2 separate regions of the Homo sapiens genome follow, and region 1 is linked to region 2. The links come from fine-mapping of genetic effects on gene expression. A gene starts in region 2. The other region holds a variant in brackets. All regions are shown on one strand. Distances are between the middles of the regions.

What was found. PIP is the estimated chance that this variant, and not a neighbour inherited with it, causes the effect. A credible set is the group of variants that fine-mapping cannot tell apart.
Region 1: its variant is the best candidate, but not a certain one, in a credible set for the expression of LMBR1L in whole blood (TOPMed, PIP 0.58).

Annotation. Positions count from the first base shown.
Region 1 is chr12:49,216,612-49,221,985 of GRCh38, reverse strand. No RefSeq gene overlaps it. Among named protein-coding and RNA genes, the nearest start is that of TUBA1A, 30 kb to the right of the region's middle. The variant C/T (reference allele first, on the strand shown) is at 1,990.
Region 2 is chr12:49,108,548-49,113,921 of GRCh38, reverse strand. LMBR1L (limb development membrane protein 1 like) reads left to right here and starts at 3,075. Exons shown (of 17, transcript NM_018113.4): 1 at 3,075-3,438. The coding sequence starts at 3,367. RefSeq lists a silencer at 2,329-2,509 and an enhancer at 3,367-3,906.

The sequences.
Region 1 (5,374 bases), 110 kb before region 2:
TTTTGGGAGTGGTGAAATTGATTTTGATGATGTCTGTGAAACTCTCTGAATATACTAAAAATAGTTGAATTGTGTACTTTCTTTCTTTCTTTTTTTTTTTTTTTGAGAGGGAGTCTTGCTCTGTCGCCCAGGCTGGAGTGCAGTGGCGCGATCTCAGCTCACTGCAAGCTCCACCTCCCGGGTTCACACACACCATTCTCCTGCCTCAGCCTCCCGAGTAGCTGGGACTACAGGCATCTGCCACCACGCCTGGCTAATTTTTTGTACTTTTTAGTAGAGACGGGGTTTCACCGTGTTAGCCAGGATGGTCTTGATCTCCTGACCTCGTGCTCCACGTGCCTCGGCCTCCCAAAGTGCTGGGATTACAGGCATGAGCCACCGCACCCGGCGAATTGTGTACTTTCAATAGGTGAATCGCTATAGTATGTGATTTTTACCTCAACAAAGCTATTTAAAAATCTAGTGCTATTTCTTACTGGATTTTGAAAGAGAATTAAAAATTTTGGCCAGGCACAGTGGCTCACACCTGTAATCCCAGCATTTTGGGAGGTAGAGGCAAGTGGCTCACTTAAGCTCAGGAGTTCAAGACTAGCTTGGACAATGTGGTGAAACCCCATCTCTACAAAAAATACAAAAATTAACCAGGCAGGGTGGTGCACACCTGTACACGCAGCTACTCAGAGGCTGAGGTGGGAGGATGGCTTGAGCCTGGGAAGTCGAAGCTGCAATGAGCTGAGATTGTGCCACTACACTCCAGCCTGGTCAACAGAACGAACGACACTGTCTCAAAAATAAAAATAAAAAATTCACTTCCCCATTTGCCAACATTTCTCTAAAGTAGGTGAGCAGTCTTCAGCTGGGCCCTCTCCCTAACTTAGTTCTCCCTACTTGGGTCCATTTCCCTGCTCTCTGCACCCCCATCAACAGTTTAATCTGCCCAGAGCTCAACCCTGGAAGTCAGGATTCTCCTCCCTGCACCACCAGACTCTGTGCCTTTGCCAACATGGTTCCTTCCATTCAACCTGTGTGTTCAGGGCCCTGACTGCATGTCACCTCTTCAAGGGCCTTTCCTTTCCATTTCACTGGGAGTGGTCTGCCCTCCAGGGTACAAGAAGTGACATTTCAACCAAATGTTTTGATACCACACAGCAAGGCGTCATCAGTGTTCTAGTCTGGATTCTTTGGGCCTGCACCACCCACCAGTGACCCTTTTCACTAAGTTAATGCCACATTTAATTTTCCTTATTATAGCATCAAAGTCTATATTTTATTTTGTTTGTTTGCTTTTGCTTTCTTCTGCCCATTATTTGATCCTTCCCCTCTTCTTTTTCCCATCTCCTCACTTCCATTCCCCCTTCAAGCCCTTCCCTTGGTACCTGGCTAATTCTTGCTAAATATTCAGGACTCTGGAAAAATGTCATCTTTTCCAGGAAGGTTTCTCTGACACCTCCCCTCACCCCTAGGATTGTGGCTGAACTGAAGTAATGGCAAGGGAAATGTAGAGAAATAAACAAATTGGAAAAATATTAAGGAGGAAGATTTGGCAGAACTTGCTAATGTGAAATAAAGCCTAAAGATCAAACAAAATAAGCAGTGAATTTGAGATACCAATTTAGTCATTTCATGTTTTTTCAAGCTTTGTGCCATCTACAGTTTTTTTTTGTTTTTTTTTTTTTTGAGACGGATTCTTGCTCTGTCATCTGGGCTGGAGTGCAGTGGTGTGATCTCGGCTCAGTGCAACCTTTGCCTCCCGGGTTCCAGCAATTCTCCTGCCTCAGCCTCCCAAGTAGCTGGGACTAAAGGCGCATGCCACCACACCTGGCTAATTTTTGTATTTTTAGTAGAGACGAGGTTTCACCATGTTGGCCAGGCTGGTCTCGAACTCCTGACCTCGTGATCTGCCCGCCATGGCCTCCCAAAGTGCTGGGATTACAGGCGTAAGCCACCACGCCTGGCTGTCATCTACAATTTTAATAAGAAAGATAGATC[C/T]TCCTGCCAAACGTGTCTTCCTTAAACATCTGTTATAATATTGCTTTATTGATGGAGGGCCTTTTACGACTCTCTGGTTACTAATGCACCAAGCCTAAACTCTGCCTTGCTTTAAAGGCCTTCCTAGTTGGTCCAGCCCTTCCCATTGGCTCCACCCAGCTGTGGTCAGGCTGGCTGCTCCATCCTCCAGGACAAAGTCTTGCTCACTCCTGCTTGTAACGCTTTTGCCACCACCTCACCTGCAGCAGTGCATTCCCTACGCTCATCTCAGGGACCATTTAAGGCTCAACTTCAAGGTTATTCCTCATGAAAGGCTGCTTGCCTGTTCCACGCCTTCTTGTGCCCTCTGAACTTCTGAAGCATTCAATTTAGCACTTAATTATATATGCTCATCTTACATAATCTACTGTTGCTTTCATGTGTGTTAGTCACGTTTCCCTCAACTAGATTATAAATTTGTTGAGTGCGGGAACCATAATTTATACTTCTTTTTTTTTTTTTTTTGAGATGGAGTTTCGCTCTTGTTGCCCAGGCTGGAGTGCAATGGCACGATCTCGGCTCACCACAACCTCCGCCTCCAGGGTTCAAGCAATTCTCCTGCCCCAGCCTCTCGAGTAGCTAGGATTACAGGCATGTGCCACCACGCCCAGCTAATTTTGTATTTTTAGTAGCGACAGGGTTTCTCCATGTTGGTCAGGCTGGTCACAAACTCCCAACCTCAGGTGATCCACCCGCCTCGGCCTCCCAAAGTGCTGGGATTACAGGCGTGAGCCACCGCGCCCGGCCAATTTCTACTTCTTTAAGATCATACGTTCTGGAATCAGACTATGCTCAAATCCTGGCTCTCCTACTTGCTAGCTGTATGGCACTGGGCAAATGGCTTAACTTCTCTATGTCTTAGTTCCTAATTTTTTTTTCTTCTTCTCTTCTTTTCTTTTTTTTTTTTTTTTTTTTTTTTTTTTTTTGAGACAGAGTCTTGCTCTGTTGCCCAGGATGGAATGCGGTGGTGCAATCACGGCTCACTGCAACCTCCGCCTCCCGGGTTCAAGCGATTCTCCTGCCTCAGCCTCCCGAGTAGCTGGGATTACAGGCACCTGCCACCACGCCAAGCTAATTTTTGTATTTTTAGTAGACAAGGTTTCATTGTGTTGGCCAGGCTGGTCTCGAATTCCTGACCTCATGATCCACCCACCTCGGCCTCCAAAGTGCTAGGATTACAGGTGTGAGCCACCTTCCCTGGCCAGTTCCTAATATTTAAAATGGAGATAATAAAAGTATCTATCTCATAGGCCGAATGCAGTGGCTTACGCCTGTAACCCCTATGCTTTGGGAGGCCGAGGTGGGTAGATCACTTGAGCTCATGAGTTTGAGACCAGCCTGGGCAACATGGTGAAAACCTATCTCTACAAAAAAATACAACAATTAGCTAGGCGTGGTGTTGCATGCCTGTGTTCCTAGCTACTTGGGAGGCTGAGGTGGGAGGATGTCTTGAGCCCAGGAGGCAGAGGTTGCAGTGAGCCTAGATCGTGCCACTGCACTCCAGCCTGGACGATACAGCCAGACCCTGTCCAAAAAAAAAAAAAAAAGAAGAAGACCTATCTCATAGGAGTGGCCATAGGCCTTAATGAGGCAACTCATGTACAGAGCCCAACAGACAGCTAGCAAATTCTAAGAACTCAATAAACATTAGTTAGTATTATTATCTCCCACATTGCTTACATGTCATCAAACACTGAGTGGATGCTTAACAATTAATTTTTGCTGATTTAATAGGTTGCATATAAATCTCTTTTAGATGCCTAAGAGAATCAGAAACTCTTTGGTTGAGGAAAAAGAGGTGTATTTGTACAGATAATAATAATTATTTTTATTTTTATTTATTTATTTTTTGAGACGGAGTCCCGCTCTGTCGCCCAGGCTAGAGTGCAGTGGCACCATCTCAGCTCACTGCAAGCTCCGACTCCTGGGTTCATGCCATTCTCCTGCCTCAGCCTCCCAAATAGCTGGGACTACAGGTGCCTGCCACCACTCCCGGCTAATTTTTTGTATTTTTAGTAGAGACGGGGTTTCACCATGTTAACCAGGATGGTCTTGATCTCCTGACCTCGTGATCCGCCTGTCTCGGCCTCCCAAAGTGCTGGGATTACAGGCGTAAGCCACCGTGTCTAGCCAATAATAATAATTTTTAAATGTTTATTAGGACAATTTTACTTCCCAATTTTTGAGGTGCATTTCACCATTGCCCCCATGTCTTCACCTGCCTCCTGGAGCCCAGGTGAGGAATCAAGAGGATTGTCTCTCTCACTTCATAAAGACACCAGGAATGAGCATTAGAAAGCAAAATGTGAGGCAGGAGGATGGCTTGAGACCAGGAGTTTGAGGTCAGCCTGGGCAATATAGTGAAATCCCATCTCTACAAAAAATAAAAATAAAAAAAATTAACCAAGTATGGTGGCACACGCCTGCAATCCTAGATACTCTGGAGGCTGACACTGGAGGATCACTTGAGCCCAGGAGTCTGAGGTTACAGTGAGCTATGACTACATCACTGCACTCCAGCCTGAGTGACAGAGCGAGACCCTGTCTCAAAAAAACCAAAAATCCTCTTTTATGTAGTTTTCTGTTTTTGAATGCATGTGCCTCAAATAAACAAACATAAATTACTGTACTGGCCTGTTGGCAGTTGAGGCAACAAGATGTCTAGCAGAGTGCAAGACAAAAATAAAGGAGAGAAGAAGGTAATTAAAGACCTAAGGCCATACTCTAGACGCACAGTATTATTATATTTTATATTCTACCAATTACCATGCTTGCCCCTCCCCCTACTCTACAAACTAACTGGCATCAACCAGCTTATCTGGAAGACCTAAGCTTTGAGTCCCACATGGTCCCTGGACTGCATCCTGGCAAAATCCTTATTGCTCAAGTTTCTATGGAGAAAACAAATTATTGTTGTCAGGGAGGAATATGAGACTGCAGAAGCTGACACTATCTGCATGGCCATGGGAGGTATGTGGGATCTACACCAACGTAAAAGATTGTAGAGGCCAGGTGCATTGGCTGACACCTGTAATCCTAGCACTTTAGGAGGCCAAGGTGGGCGAATCACCTGAGGTTGGGAGTTCAAGACCAGCCTGGCAAGCATGGTGAAACCCCATGTCTATTAAAATACAAAAAATTAGCCAGGCATGATGGTGGGTGCCTGTAATCCCAGCTACTCAGGAGACGGGAGAATTGCTTGAACCCAGGTGATGGTGGTTGCAGTGAGCCGAGATTGCACTACTACACTCCAGCCTGGGCGGCTGAATAAGACTCCATCTCAAAAAAAAAGAAAAAAAAAAAGATTGTAGAATGTGAATTGTTCTGAAAAGAAATTCTACGGGAA
Region 2 (5,374 bases):
CATGCCTGTAATCCCAGCACTTTGGGAGGCTGAGGCGGGCGGATCACCTGAGTTCAGGAGTTGGAGACCAGCCTGACCAACAAGGAGAAACCCCGTCTCTACTAAAAATACAAAACTAGCCAGTCATGGGGGAGTGCCTGTAATCCCAGGTACTCTGGAGGCTGAGGCAAGAGAATCGCTTGAACCCGGGAGGTGGAGGTTGCGGTAAGCCAAGATCGCACCATTGCACTCCTGCCTGGGCAACAAGAGTGAAACTCCATCTCAAAAAAAAAAAAAAAAAAAAAAAAAGCCAAATATGAGTTTCTAATTCTTGAAGAGGAGAAGACAGGAGGAAAAGAGGAAAGACATAAATGAAGGTAAAGTTAAACAATACAAAATATTTAAATAACAGCTCAAGAGGACAAATATTATGAAACAATGCATATATGGACAATTTTTTTTTTAGAGACGGAGTTTCGCTCTTGTTGCCCAGGCTGTAGCGCAATGGTGTGATCTCAGCTCACTGCAACCTCCAACTCCCAGGTTCAAGTGTTTCTCCTGCCTCAGCCTCCCAAGTAGCTGGGATTACAGTACCCACCACCATGCCCAGCTAATTTTTGTATTTTTTAGTAGAGACAGGGTTTCACCCTGTTGGCCAGGGTGGTCCTGAACTCCTGACTGTTGGAAACAAGCCCCCCCCAAAATCTGGCCATAAACTGGCCCCAAAACTGGCCATAAACAAAATCTCTGCAGCACTGTGACATATTCATGATGGCCATAATGCCCCGCTGGAAGGTTGTGGGTTTACTGGAATGAGGGCAAGGAACACCTGGCCCACCCAGGGCGGAAAACCGCTTAAAGGCGTTCTTAAACCACAAACAATAGCATGAGCGATCTGTGCCTTAAGGACATGCTCCTGCTGCAGATAACTAGCCCAACCCATCCCTTTATCTCTGCCCATCCCTTTGTTTCCCATAAGGGATACTTTCAGTTAATCTAATATCTATAGAAACAATGCTAATGACTGGCTTGCTGTTGGGTAAATCTCTGTTCCTGGCTCTCAGCTCTGAAGGCTGTGAGACCCCTGATTTCCCACTTCACATCTCTATATTTCTGTGTGTCTTTAATTCCTCTAGTGCCGCTGGGTTAGGGTCTCCCCGACCGAGCTGCTCTCAGCACCTGACTTCAGGTAATCCACCCGTCTCGGCCTCCCAAAGTGCTAGGATTACAGGCATGAGTCACCGCGCCCGGTCTTATGGCCAATTTCTTTTTCTTTTCTTTTTTTTTTTTTTTTGAGATGGAGTCTCGCTCTGTCACCCAGGCTGGAGTGCAGTGGCGCGATCTCGGCTCACTGCAAGCTCCGCCTCCCGGGTTCACGCCATTCTCCTCCCTCAGCCTCCCGAGTAGCTGGGACTACAGGCACCTGCCACCACGCCCGGCTAATTTTTTATGTTTTAAGTAGAGATGGGGTTTCACCGTGTTAGGCAGGATGGTCTCGATCTCCTGACCTCTTGATCCGCCCGCTTCAGCCTCCCAAAGTACTGGGATTGCAGGCGTGAGCCACCGCGCGCGGCTAATGGCCAATTTTTAACTGCTCACTGAACTATGCAGCTGGATGTTGCTTTAAGAATTTAGAGGAGGTCGGGTCTGTTGGCTCACGCCTGTAATCCCTGCACTTTGGGAGGTCAAGGCAGGCCGACAGCTTGGGCCCAGGAGTTCAAGACCAGACTGAGCAACATGGCAGAATCAGCTAAGTGTGCTGGTGCCTGCCTGTGATCCCAGCTGCTCAAGAGACTGAGATGGGAAGATCACTTGAGCCTTGGAGTTGGAGGCTACAGTGAGTCGTGATCGCACCACTGCACACCAGCCTGGGCGACAGAGTGAGACTGTCTCAAAAATAAATAACTTAAAAGAAAATCTCCCTTCGTCTAAATCCTGTCTACTTCCAAGACACACACACACACACACACACACACACACACACACACACACACACACACACACACACACAAAATCTTGGCCGGACGTGGTGGCTCACGCCTGTAATCCCAGCACTTTGGGAAGCCGAGGCGGGCGGATCAACTAAGGTTGGGAGTTCAAGATGAGCCTGACCAACATGGAGAAACCACGTCTTTACTAAAAATACAAAATTAGCTGGGCGCGGTGGCGCATGCCTGTAATCCCAGTTACTTGGGAGGCTGAGGAAGGAGAATCGCTTGAACCCGGGAGGCGGAGGTTGCAGTGAGCCGAAATCACACCATTGCACTGCAGCCTGGGCAATAAGAGCGAAACTCCGTCTCAAAAATAAATAAAGAAATAAAAGCTGAATCACAACATCTTCCTCTGAAGTGTTGTTGTGACGTTAAAAATGAGATAATAGGCTGGGTGGGTCACGCCTTGTAATCCCAGTACTTTGGGAGGCCCATCACTTTGAGACTAGGAGTCCGAGATCAGCCTGGGTAACATGGCTGAGATAACGACTATAAAGTGAATGGCACATAGTAAGTGGTTAGCTAATGTTTGACTCAGCCCCACTCTTCAGTGATCCTTGTGGGCATTTCTTCACAAAGTTGCAAGGTATTTCTGTAGTCCTCTCTCCAGTATTTTTCAGTATTTGTTCTAGCACACACTAGGTCTTCCACAAAAATGATTGAATGAAAACTCCTGGCAGCGGGAAAGCGGGGTGGGGATGTGGGGAGGGGCACCCCAACACAAACACACAGAAAATGCTACTACAGAACATCGGTTACTGGGCAGCGGTACATTTCAGAACCCCTAGGGTGCCCTCACATCCTGCCTGGCTGGCCTGCTTCAAACGGTTCATTTAACCAAGGTCATACTAAAATGTTGGCTGCTACTAAAATCCAGGAACCTTCACTTTTCCCAGATAAGAGAGACAGTTGCTCTATTAGTATGGGCAGCGGTAGGCCCAAAAGATCCCGCCTTCCTCCACAGGGCGAGCCTATCAGCGCTCCTCCAGCGATGAACGACAGCTCTCCAGGAGCCAATGAGTTCCTCCCCCTGGAAGGAACCCGCCCATCCCTTGTGTCGTCACTAGATCTCTTAAAAAGATGGACCCTCAGCGGCGCTTCCTCGTAGCGAGCCTAGTGGCGGGTGTTTGCATTGAAACGTGAGCGCGACCCGACCTTAAAGAGTGGGGAGCAAAGGGAGGACAGAGCCCTTTAAAACGAGGCGGGTGGTGCCTGCCCCTTTAAGGGCGGGGCGTCCGGACGACTGTATCTGAGCCCCAGACTGCCCCGAGTTTCTGTCGCAGGCTGCGAGGAAAGGCCCCTAGGCTGGGTCTGGGTGCTTGGCGGCGGCGGCTTCCTCCCCGCTCGTCCTCCCCGGGCCCAGAGGCACCTCGGCTTCAGTCATGCTGAGCAGAGTATGGAAGCACCTGACTACGAAGTGCTATCCGTGCGAGAACAGCTATTCCACGAGAGGATCCGCGAGTGTATTGTGAGTGCGGGGCCCCGGCGAGGAGAAGCGGGGGTTGCGGGAGACGGGGAGGTTGGGGTCCGAGCCCACCTGGTCTCAGAGTGCCGTCAAACCATGCCTGGGCCAGCGGCGGGCGACGGAGGCCTCCGTCCGGGCAGAAGGGCGGGTGCCCGGCTAGCGATCCCCTAGATGGGATCAGCTGGGTCCCTGAGCGATAAACAAAGGCCGTCGTTTCCGTTCCTCCCCCACACGCCCCTCCCCTGCCCCTCCCTCCCACCCCTCACCCAGCGCGTCTTCCTGTTGGGGGTCTCCGGGGTCTGAGAGCCTGCGGAGTCTGCCTTAGTCTGATAATCGGGGAAGGATGGGTTTGCTTCTCAAACTGGGTTGAGGGCAAACTCAGCTGACGTTGGATGAAGGGGAGACGTCGTCACACTGAGCTTGATTCCAGAAAAGAGGGGAGGTGTAGGGATGGCAGACGGGAGGAACCTGGGGACTTGGTGGGTCATCTGCTTTGGAAGAAAGGAGTCTTGCTGGGGTGGATCCTAATATGTAGAGATGAGGAACAACCAAGTATTCCCCCGTCTTTTTTCTTTCTCATTGGTGTTTGTTTGAAACCCTGCAAGGCTGGGTTCCCAGCCTCTCAGCCATTCCGGGGTTTCCCCAGTGAGTGGTCCTCCCAGGGCTTCAGAGGGTACCTGGCTGCTGTTCCTTACGCCCTCCCTGCCACTTAGAGCGACAACTGAACCTTGCGCACAGAAGTGGACTACTCAATTCTGGGGTAGGGGTACCCAGTGGAGCTTAGGGTGTCATATCTTTCTCAGCCTTGCTTTGAATTTTCACCTCTCTCCTTTCTCCTGTGTCCTTCCCCAGAGCTCACCAGGGCAACCCTCATCTCCAGATAGTAAATGGAAAGGGAATGGTTTGGAAAAACAGAAAGAAATGTTAGTAAGTGTGGGAATCCATTGTTGGGGTCATTCCCTTCATTTTTCTCAGGCTGGGCTCTAGCCAGCCCTGGGCAGCCTGATTGGAGGAGGGGTAAATTGAGCCAGGACATAATTAGGTCTGCTCTTATCTGTGAGGACAGGAAAGTATATTAGTCTGTGTGTGCAACTCCAGTAGAAGTGTGCTTTCGGCAAGCCTTCCTTGTGTGTTTCTTGGTGGACAGTCCACATGGTGGGTTGGGCATATTGCAGAGGCACACCCAGGCCTTGAGACAGTGTCGGGCTGGAGGCTCAAATTCCTAGAGAACAGGGAGGGATGAGACCTTGGACAGAAGCAGCCTCCTGGATGTCTCCCTAATCCTTTAGTCCCATGAGCTGAGAACATCAGTGCTGGCTAAGGGTAGCCTGAAGACTTATGGTGCCTCCCCCACCTGGCTCTCATCTAGAGGCTAGAGAGCAGCCTAGCTTCTTGGAACTGCGTGGAACTCCAGCCTGACCTTTTGAGCCCTCCCACCTTCCTGGCTATTACGCAAGCCCAGAGCAGAACACAGGCTATAAAAATCTTGCAGCTACAATCTGAGTGGCTCCTTCTGTTCTGCTTCCCTAATATCAAAAGCTATGACTTTGTTCTAGATCGATGGCTCTCCTGCGTCTCTGTGGATTCTTCCCTCCTTGTACAGATAGCTGTATGTGTTTTCCTTGTGGGGTCAGCCCTTTCTGGAGACTGGAAGACCCATGAGACTGATCTTGTATTCTTGGCCTATCTCAAACACAATAACTTCTCTTCTTGAGACTCTCTGGTGTTTTTTTTGTTTTGTTTAGTTTTGTTTTTGACCTAGTCTCACTCTGTCGCCCAGGCTGGAGTGCAGTGGCGTTATCTCTGCTCACTGCAACCTCCGCCTCCCAGGTTCTAGTGATTCTTGTACCTCAGCCTCCCGAGTAGCTGGGATTACAGGCACCTGCCACCACACACGGCCTTTTTTTTTTTTTTTTTTTTTTTTTGAGACTCAGTCTTG